Linked DNA regions of Homo sapiens. The protein of the gene in region 2 interacts with the protein of the main gene of each other region in a biochemical or structural test. Each region holds a gene or a part of one and is shown on either strand. Other genes may lie near its edges.

The links.
Region 1: the proteins of SYN1 (region 2) and ERG form a complex in vitro, tested with the Homo sapiens proteins (one large-scale study listed by BioGRID).

The regions. Positions count from the first base shown.
Region 1 is NC_000021.9:38,383,377-38,387,189, forward strand, and holds part of ERG (transcriptional regulator ERG), read right to left. Parts: intron 548-3,813; coding exon 27-547; 3' UTR 1-26. UniProt on the Homo sapiens protein: Transcriptional regulator. May participate in transcriptional regulation through the recruitment of SETDB1 histone methyltransferase and subsequent modification of local chromatin structure.
Region 2 is NC_000023.11:47,617,003-47,621,500, forward strand, and holds the start of SYN1 (synapsin-1), read right to left. Parts: upstream 2,856-4,498; 5' UTR 2,727-2,855; coding exon 2,350-2,726; intron 1-2,349. UniProt on the Homo sapiens protein: Neuronal phosphoprotein that coats synaptic vesicles, and binds to the cytoskeleton. Acts as a regulator of synaptic vesicles trafficking, involved in the control of neurotransmitter release at the pre-synaptic terminal.

The DNA.
Region 1 (3,813 bases), on a different chromosome or scaffold from region 2:
TGATGGGAAAAGCCTCCGCCAGGTCTTTAGTAGTAAGTGCCCAGATGAGAAGGCATATGGCTGGTGGGGAGCCTAGTGTTGGGGTATATACCCCCAGTTGGTGAATTCCAGTATGGGTTTGGGGCAGCAAAAAAACTGGAAGATGTCACGGGGAGGGCTGGAGGGTGGGGCGCCACAAAGTTCATCTTCTGTGGGTGGGCGTGATAGGAGCCCATGTACGGGAGGTCTGAGGGGTACTTGTACAGAGATGACTCCGGGGGGTGGGGCTGGAGGGCCTGGGCGATCCCGTGGAAGTCGAACTTGTAGGCGTAGCGCTTCCCATGGACCTTGGTCATGATGTTCTTGTCATAGTAGTAACGGAGGGCGCGGCTGAGCTTATCGTAGTTCATGTTGGGTTTGCTCTTCCGCTCTCCCCAGCGCCGGGCCACCTCGTCGGGATCCGTCATCTTGAACTCCCCGTTGGTGCCTTCCCAGGTGATGCAGCTGGAGTTGGAGCTGTCCGACAGGAGCTCCAGGAGGAACTGCCAAAGCTGGATCTGGCCACTGCCTAATGAGGTCAGGAGAGGAAGGAAAACTCCAGTGAGCACAGGTTCCAGGGGAAAGAGGCTCTCTGTGATGACGGAAGGAGGTGCTATTGGTGTGCCGCCCACATTCCCTTCACCAGGCCTGTCCGTCCATCCCTCAGCTGCAGGGGTGCGGACTGCTCTCGTTCCATGGCCACCCACTTCTCCAGAGAACTGCCCTTGCCTGAACAGAGCCGCCGCCTCGCCCACCCCCAGGTATCCCACAGCTGGGTGGACTGAACGGGGTACCACGGGCCGGCCCCCTTGCCTCAAGGAAAGACCAACTCCATGACGCTATTCAGGCTTCAGGGCTCCCGTGGGATTGGGCTGAAACAGCGTCCAGCTGCAAGGAGGCTTGGAGGAGGCCAGAAACTTCCTTAGCGCTGCCCCTGCAGCACTTCCCATTCTCTCTCTCCTGAGAACATGCCGTTAATCAGTCACCTGCACAAGCAGGCTTACCCCAAGCTCTGCATCAAGGGAACCCGACCTAGGACGATGATCTAACAGATTCAAGACCTAGATGGAATGCAGCGAATTCATATGGGGCAAAGTTCAGGCTGCTTCCATCCATTTCTGACGTCCTTAAAAGAACAGCCAGATCAACCTGGTGTTTAGGGGATGAAAGAGCTATATATTTTTTTTTCCTATTTTGTGAAGCACAAAGTACTGTTATGTGGATGGCAATAATGACTTAATGCCATTTATATTGGCTAGGTCAAGTAAGATAATAAAAGTTAGATTTAGGAAATGAACTTCTAAAAGTTTATGGAAAAAAATCGAGAATGGAAGTAAACACCATTATTTCTAACATAACATTTTGCTGGCGCTCAGAAAGCAATTCTGTGAAAACTTTTCCTAGAACAGAATTAACCCACTCAAAATGAGGAAGTTTAGGAAAAAAAAAAAAAAAGCTGGCTCTTTTTCAAACCAGATCACCCAGTTCCAGTATTTGGGCAAGCGCATCGTAACGGAAACCAGTGCCTTGCCTGTGTGCTGCAACGCCAATTGTGTTAAGCAGCATTTCCAGAAGAAAAACCCCAACAATGAGTGATTGCAAGTCCCCTTGGGAAGCTGAATGAGACTCTTCCTTTGTCAAAGAGATCACATTTAGCTGGGTGGACAAAGTCAGAATTTTCTTGATTTCATTGAAATCATACAGATACAGCTTTGTTTTATGAAATTCAAAGAAAAATCTAGGCACATCATTCTAGCTGCTATGTTACAATACTTGAAGATAGTTTATGGCTCCCTAGAAGACAGCAGCATGTAAATATTGACAGCAGTATCCGTACCAAGAGAAGCTAAGCTGTGCTGAACATATTTCAGAAGCTTAAGAACAGATGGGAGGTGGGTCTTTCCTCCCAAATTCCAGTTACAGCACTGCCTTAGACTTATTACCAAAAGATTACCTTTTATTATAGTGTAAGTAATATCAATCGATGTGATAAAATGATTAAAGTAACTTTAACTGACATCTACTCAGGGAAGTAATATACTGTAAAAATCAATTTTACGTTCATTTTCTTCTAAATCCTCGCTAGCCTCCTGTACATATCACCCAACTTATAAACTCTGCTTTGCATGTTGGCTACATGGACATGGATATTTTTGTGAATTTATCCATACAATAGCACTGTGAGAAAGGTCAGCTTTTTCTGAATCTATGCTGGAAAGTGCTCATTTTCAGTCTAGCAACACATTTGAAATGTATTAACAGCTTGTAGCTCATTGAAGTGGAAGCCTTTGCTTTTTCAGAACCACATATACAAACTGTTCCCAATCAAGTTTTGTTGCCTCCAACATTTTATTAATATGCATTTAGAAAATACAAAGAATGGTATGAGAAAACCATATGGTCTTAGTATATATATTGTAACCAAAAAATTACAACTTGAAAAAATTCCGTATATGACCTGGGAATAGGAAAAGGCATGGATTTTTGATTTAACAGTCTAACAGATGCTTCAATATAAACACATACGGTTGTTTGAAAATAAATATTCAGCGTCAACTTTCTCCCATAGAGAAAGCAACTCCACAGACCTGCCGAAATCACACTTGGAATCTACTCAAACCTTGGCATTGCCTCTTAGCAATTTGTCCCTCACCCATTTCTCTTATAAACGTGTGTAGGACAGAATCAGTGGACAAAAGTGATCTCATGTCTCTCCTATTTCTGAAGAGTTAGAAAGCAGGGGACCTAAATTTGTGGCAGCAAACTCTATGCCCAAAGGATGGATGAGCTAATTTCTCACTTGACTATTTTACCCAGTAGCCATAAAGACATAGGGCTCAGGACTGTGAGAATTTCAAGGGAGGGTCTATAGAAATAAGAGAACTGTAAGCAAAATTCATCAGCTTTCAAACCTTGAAAGAAACCTGGAAATGCAAAATCAATGAATGTTTAAGTAAATGGTAGAAAGAGTAACATCATGTCAAACTCATTAATTGTTAAATTTAATATTTGTAACAAAATTCGCTGCATTTTGCAGTGTGTAGAACAAAATTTCTCACTGCAAGAATTCTCAAAAATGAACAATGGTTGTTAAAAAATTGTCAGTGGTAAAGGAATTATTCTCAGTCATAAAATTTTAAGAGCAATTTTTAAATTCTTATTTTACTTCCAAAACAATAACATTTAATGTGTGACGAGGTGCATTTTAGAATATAGAATAGAGATTTCCAAACAAGAATGCTTAGGGTTTAGGAAAGCCTAAAAGTGGCTTGGGTCACTCATGGGCCAAACCAGGATTTACAAAGAGAAGTTCTTGAAAGACAAGAGCTTTCATTGAGTAGCATCACCACCTCTACCTTAGGACTCACCTTTCTTGGGTAAACCCTTCAGATCTATTTTTTTTTTTTACTCTCTCTTAATAACATCCTTGCGATGTCAGTAAGGAGGAACTAATTTTTTCTTAGGGTAATTACCAAAATAAAACATATTTGGAGGTAAAAAACAGTGGCAAGCAGCATTGTCCACCTACAGAGAACCCTGTGGGTGAAAGGGAGCGGCTGTGGCTTTTAAGAAGACAGAGGCACTCCTTTAATTTTACAGAGGAAAGTAATCTCCTAATATTGTTAAAAGAAAGGGAGAGAAACAGGGTAGCAAAGGGGTACAGACTGAGCAAAAAAGGGGGAAAAAAAAACTAAACGGTTTACAAACCACAGAGCAAAGCAGAGAGCTGCAGAGTGAGTCAGCAGCTGTGTCTGGTGGAAACAGCATCCTGGTGCAAAGCCCTGCAGCCGTCAG
Region 2 (4,498 bases):
TAGCAAGGCCAGCTGGCAGGTGAGGATTTCAAGCACACCTGCATTTAGAAAAAAAAGAAGGAAGGGGAGCTGAAGAAGGGTTATTCCTAGTATATAATGGTGCATAATAAATGCCTCCCACACTTTCATGGAAAGGATGCAATAAATATCTGCAGAATGAATAAATTGCTCTGAATGGAGAGAAAGGCTACTCGGTAAAGGCTCCTGGGGGAGAGGTAATCTAACCAGTAAACAGCTGGTACTCAATACATTTAGGCTGAAGTAGACCCCTAGAGAGAGAGCTCTTGAGGCAGGGTCAGGGATTTCCAGAGACTTGGAAAGAGGAAGTTGAAAGTGACTTATACAGTAAGTGCTCAATAAGTGTTTACTTAAATAGTAAAACTATTAAGTAAATAGTAAATTTAGTAAATTTACTAAATTTATTTAGTAAATTAAGTCAATAGTAAAACTATTAAGTAAAAGTGTTTACTTAAGTAAGTGTTACTTAAATAGACTAAAAGCCCTTTGGGGGTATGAATTAAAGTTGGTAGAGGGAATCCTAGGGGTACTGAAGGGAGTGGGAAAGGGGTGATCATTATAAACTCAGCTCTGGATTTATCACAGGAAAGGACCTTGGGAGAGGCCTTGTGATTGGAACAGGCTCTCCTAGGGGTAAGGAAGAAGAATGTACTCCCCAAAACAACAGGTCCTGCATATGTGCTCACTGGATCTACTGTTAAGAAAACAATTCTGGGGAGGAGGTGTGAATATACAGAACACACAGAAGACACTCCATAAATGCTCAGGGGAGCCATTGGAAGAAAAGGTCTTTGGGGGAGGATGATTAAAATGGAGCACATGACAGACAAGGAATAAATGCTCACTGGATCCATTAGAAGAAAAGGCCTTTGGGGAGTGGGGCTGGGGATGGACATATAGTCACCTGATCAAGGCTCACTGCATCCCTGAAGGAAAAGTCCTATGGGGAGGGGAAATGGGAGTGCAGAAAGTTGATCTATGGGAGCTCGATTCTTCATCCATAGGAGAAAAGGCTTTTGTGAAGAAGGCACACAATCAGGTACACAGCAGGTGCTCCATAAATACTCCAAGGAGTGATTAAAAGAAAAGGTCTTTGGAAAGAGTGACTGGAATGGTACACACAGCAAGTGCCAGATATCTGAGCACTGTATTAACTGGAGGCACAGGCCTTTATGGAGAGGTCTAAGGTTGGGTCATGCAGAAAGTGCTCAATACATGCAGACTGAAGCCACTGGAGGAAAGGGTATTGCAGAAAGGGTTTGAGGGTGGGGTATACAGCAGGCACCAGTCAATGCATGCTTGCTGAATACACTGGAGGAAAGAACTTTTAGAGAAGGCTCACACTGCAGGCAGTTGATAAATGCTAGATGGATCCACCAAAGGAAAGGTCTTTGAAGAAGTAGCTGGAGAACGGGGGATACAAGAGGCACTCAATAAATGTTTTCTAGATCCACTGTAGGGAAAGGTCTTTGAGGAGACGGTCTGAAGATGAGTCACACAAAGAAGGTTCAAAACTGCTCATGGAACTCACTGGAGGAAAATGATTTGTTTGAGAAGGGGTTTGGGGGTGCGGCACGTATCAGGCACTTAACAAATGCTTCCTAGATCCTTTGGAGAAAAGGCCCTCAGAGAGAGGGCTTGGAGTTGGGGCACAGAGAAGGCATCCAATCAAAACTCACAGGATCCATGAAAGGCAAAGCTTTTGGAGAGAAGCTGGGGTGGGATACACAGCAGGTACTCAATGTTTACTAAATAGTTTAAAAGGGCTTTAAGGACGGAGCTGGGGTGGGACACATAGCATAGACTGGACACATGCTCACAAGACCCATTAGAGAAGGCCTCAGGGCAAGGGTTGAGGAGAACAGGACAGTATCAGGCTCTCAAAGAATGCTCACAAACCTCATTGAAATCAAAGGCCTTGGGGAAGGGCTCTTGGATGAGGCATACTGCAGGTACTAGATAAGTGCTCACAAGATCCATTAGAGGACAAGGCCTATGGGGCAAGGGTTGGGGAGGGTAGGAAGGACACGTTCGGTTTTCGAAGGCTCATAGGATATATTGAAGCCAAAGACTTTTGGGGGAGGGGTAGTAGGGAACAGGTACGCAGCAGGTGCCTGATAATTGCTCCCTGGATCCATCAAGGTTTAAGGGGCGGAGGGGGGCGACAAGGGCGGGGCACAGAGGAAGCATCCAGCTTAATAATTTAAAGGAAAAAGATTTAGGTGAGAGGGCCAGGTGTCAGGCACACAAGCGGCGCTCGATAATTGCTCATTCGCAGAAGAACGATCTGGGGACCCAGGCCCACGGGAGACGTCCGCGGCAGTGGCTTACCAGTCGGTGTGCGGCTCGTCGATGACCAGCAGCACCCTGGAGGCGGCTCCCCCGCGGCCTGCGCCCCCAGAGCCGCCGCCCACCTGCTCGCTGAAGGTGGCAGCTGCCGCCGCCGTGGTCTGCTTGACCGCGTTGGACAGCGACGAGAAGAAGCCACCGCCCCCCGAGGACCCGGGGCTAGGGGCGGCCGGAGAGGCCGCTGGGGCGACCCCGGAGGACCTCTCGGCAGTGGCGGTCCCGGGACCGGGCGTGGCTCCGGGGCTGTGGGCACCGGGCGGCGGTGGGGGCGGCTGCGGACGCTGCAGGTCTGTCATGTACCCATTTGGCAGATTGGCCATAAAGTTGCTGTCCGACAGGCGGCGCCGCAGGTAGTTCATGGCTGCGACTTGGGGCAGGGGGTCCTAGGGGTGGTCTGGCCAGGAGCCGCGGGGGCGGACTGCGCGGTGCCCAGGAGCACAGCTGCGCTCTCAGGCACGACACGACTCCTCCGCTGCCCACCGCAGACTGAGGCAGCGCTGAGTCGCCGGCGCCGCAGCGCAGATGGTCGCGCCCGTGCCCCCCTATCTCGCGCCTCGCGTGGTGCGGTCCGGCTGGGCCGGCGGCGGCGCGGACGCGACCAAGGTGGCCGGGAAGGGGAGTTTGCGGGGGACCGGCGAGTGACGTCAGCGCGCCTTCAGTGCTGAGGCGGCGGTGGCGCGCGCCGCCAGGCGGGGGCGAAGGCACTGTCCGCGGTGCTGAAGCTGGCAGTGCGCACGCGCCTCGCCGCATCCTGTTTCCCCTCCCCCTCTCTGATAGGGGATGCGCAATTTGGGGAATGGGGGTTGGGTGCTTGTCCAGTGGGTCGGGGTCGGTCGTCAGGTAGGCACCCCCACCCCGCCTCATCCTGGTCCTAAAACCCACTTGCACTCATACGCAGGGCCCTCTGCAGATACTCGGTTTGTAGTGTTGATATTCAACTCAGAAGGCATTTTTTGGGGGGAGGGGGGCACTGGAAGCACACTCAGAGACACGAAAGTAGAGAAATAACCCCCTCACAGAGGGGGGTGAGGTCACACGCAGTGCCCGCGGGGAGATTAGTCTCCCACATCCACACAGGCTCAGCTAGGCAGAGAGCGGGGGCGTCACAGACAGCATCAGACAAGCGGAGGTGGACACTTGGGTGGTGTACACACCCTTGCCCAAGGTGGCAAGGGGGGCCTGGAGGCACACAAGAAATGACACACATATAAACACACACAAAAGTGAGGAAACATACGAGGGCATGTACAGACAGAACACACGCCAATCTAGGTATACATACAGACATACAAGTCCAGAGTAACACACATGGGCATGTTACATACATGCATGCATACACCCATACCCCCACACACACAGGTAACACACTGACACACAGAGACCCAGGGAAACTCATATGAGCATACACTTGCAGACAAAACACATTCCCACCGATGATCATGGAGAAACCTAGATCTGCAACACAGACATTCTCTGCAGCCCTAGCCCTGGTGCGTGTCCACCCCCACACCAGAACACACTTGGTATATACGCCACCATCCCTTTGCTCTGGACACCGCCAAAACTCACGATAACTACCTGATGTCATCAGTGCCCATGGCTGTCTCCCCCTGCACCCAAGAACTTTCCACAGAGGCAGGCCCATCCCATGGTGCACACACAGTAGGTACCAAATAATGTTTGCATATGAGCAAATGAGGTAGTCCAAGCAGAGGTGGGATATGGGAACCTGTCAAATCTTTATGATTCTGACTACAATAAAAGCACTAATTCATAATCATTTGTTCACTGATTGTACCCAACTCTTAACTAAGCTGTTTACATGCATCATTTCATCCAACCCTCACAACAATCCAGTGGGGTGGATAATATAATGTCTATTTTACAGATGAGGGAATACAAGAACTCCAGTTAATTCCCAAAGGGTCATGTTCACTTTATGATCAACACATTTTTTTAAGAATGTGCCAGGAAGAGGAAACATCCAGTGCCAATGTGGCTGGAACAAGCTGAAGGGGGTTGTGGTAGCAGGGGCCAGATTGGGTAGGACCTTGACCATAGTGAGCAGTGATGGTGGACTAGGAGAGGTGGCAGAAGATAGGCAAGAAGTAAGTAGATATGGAGTCTCTTT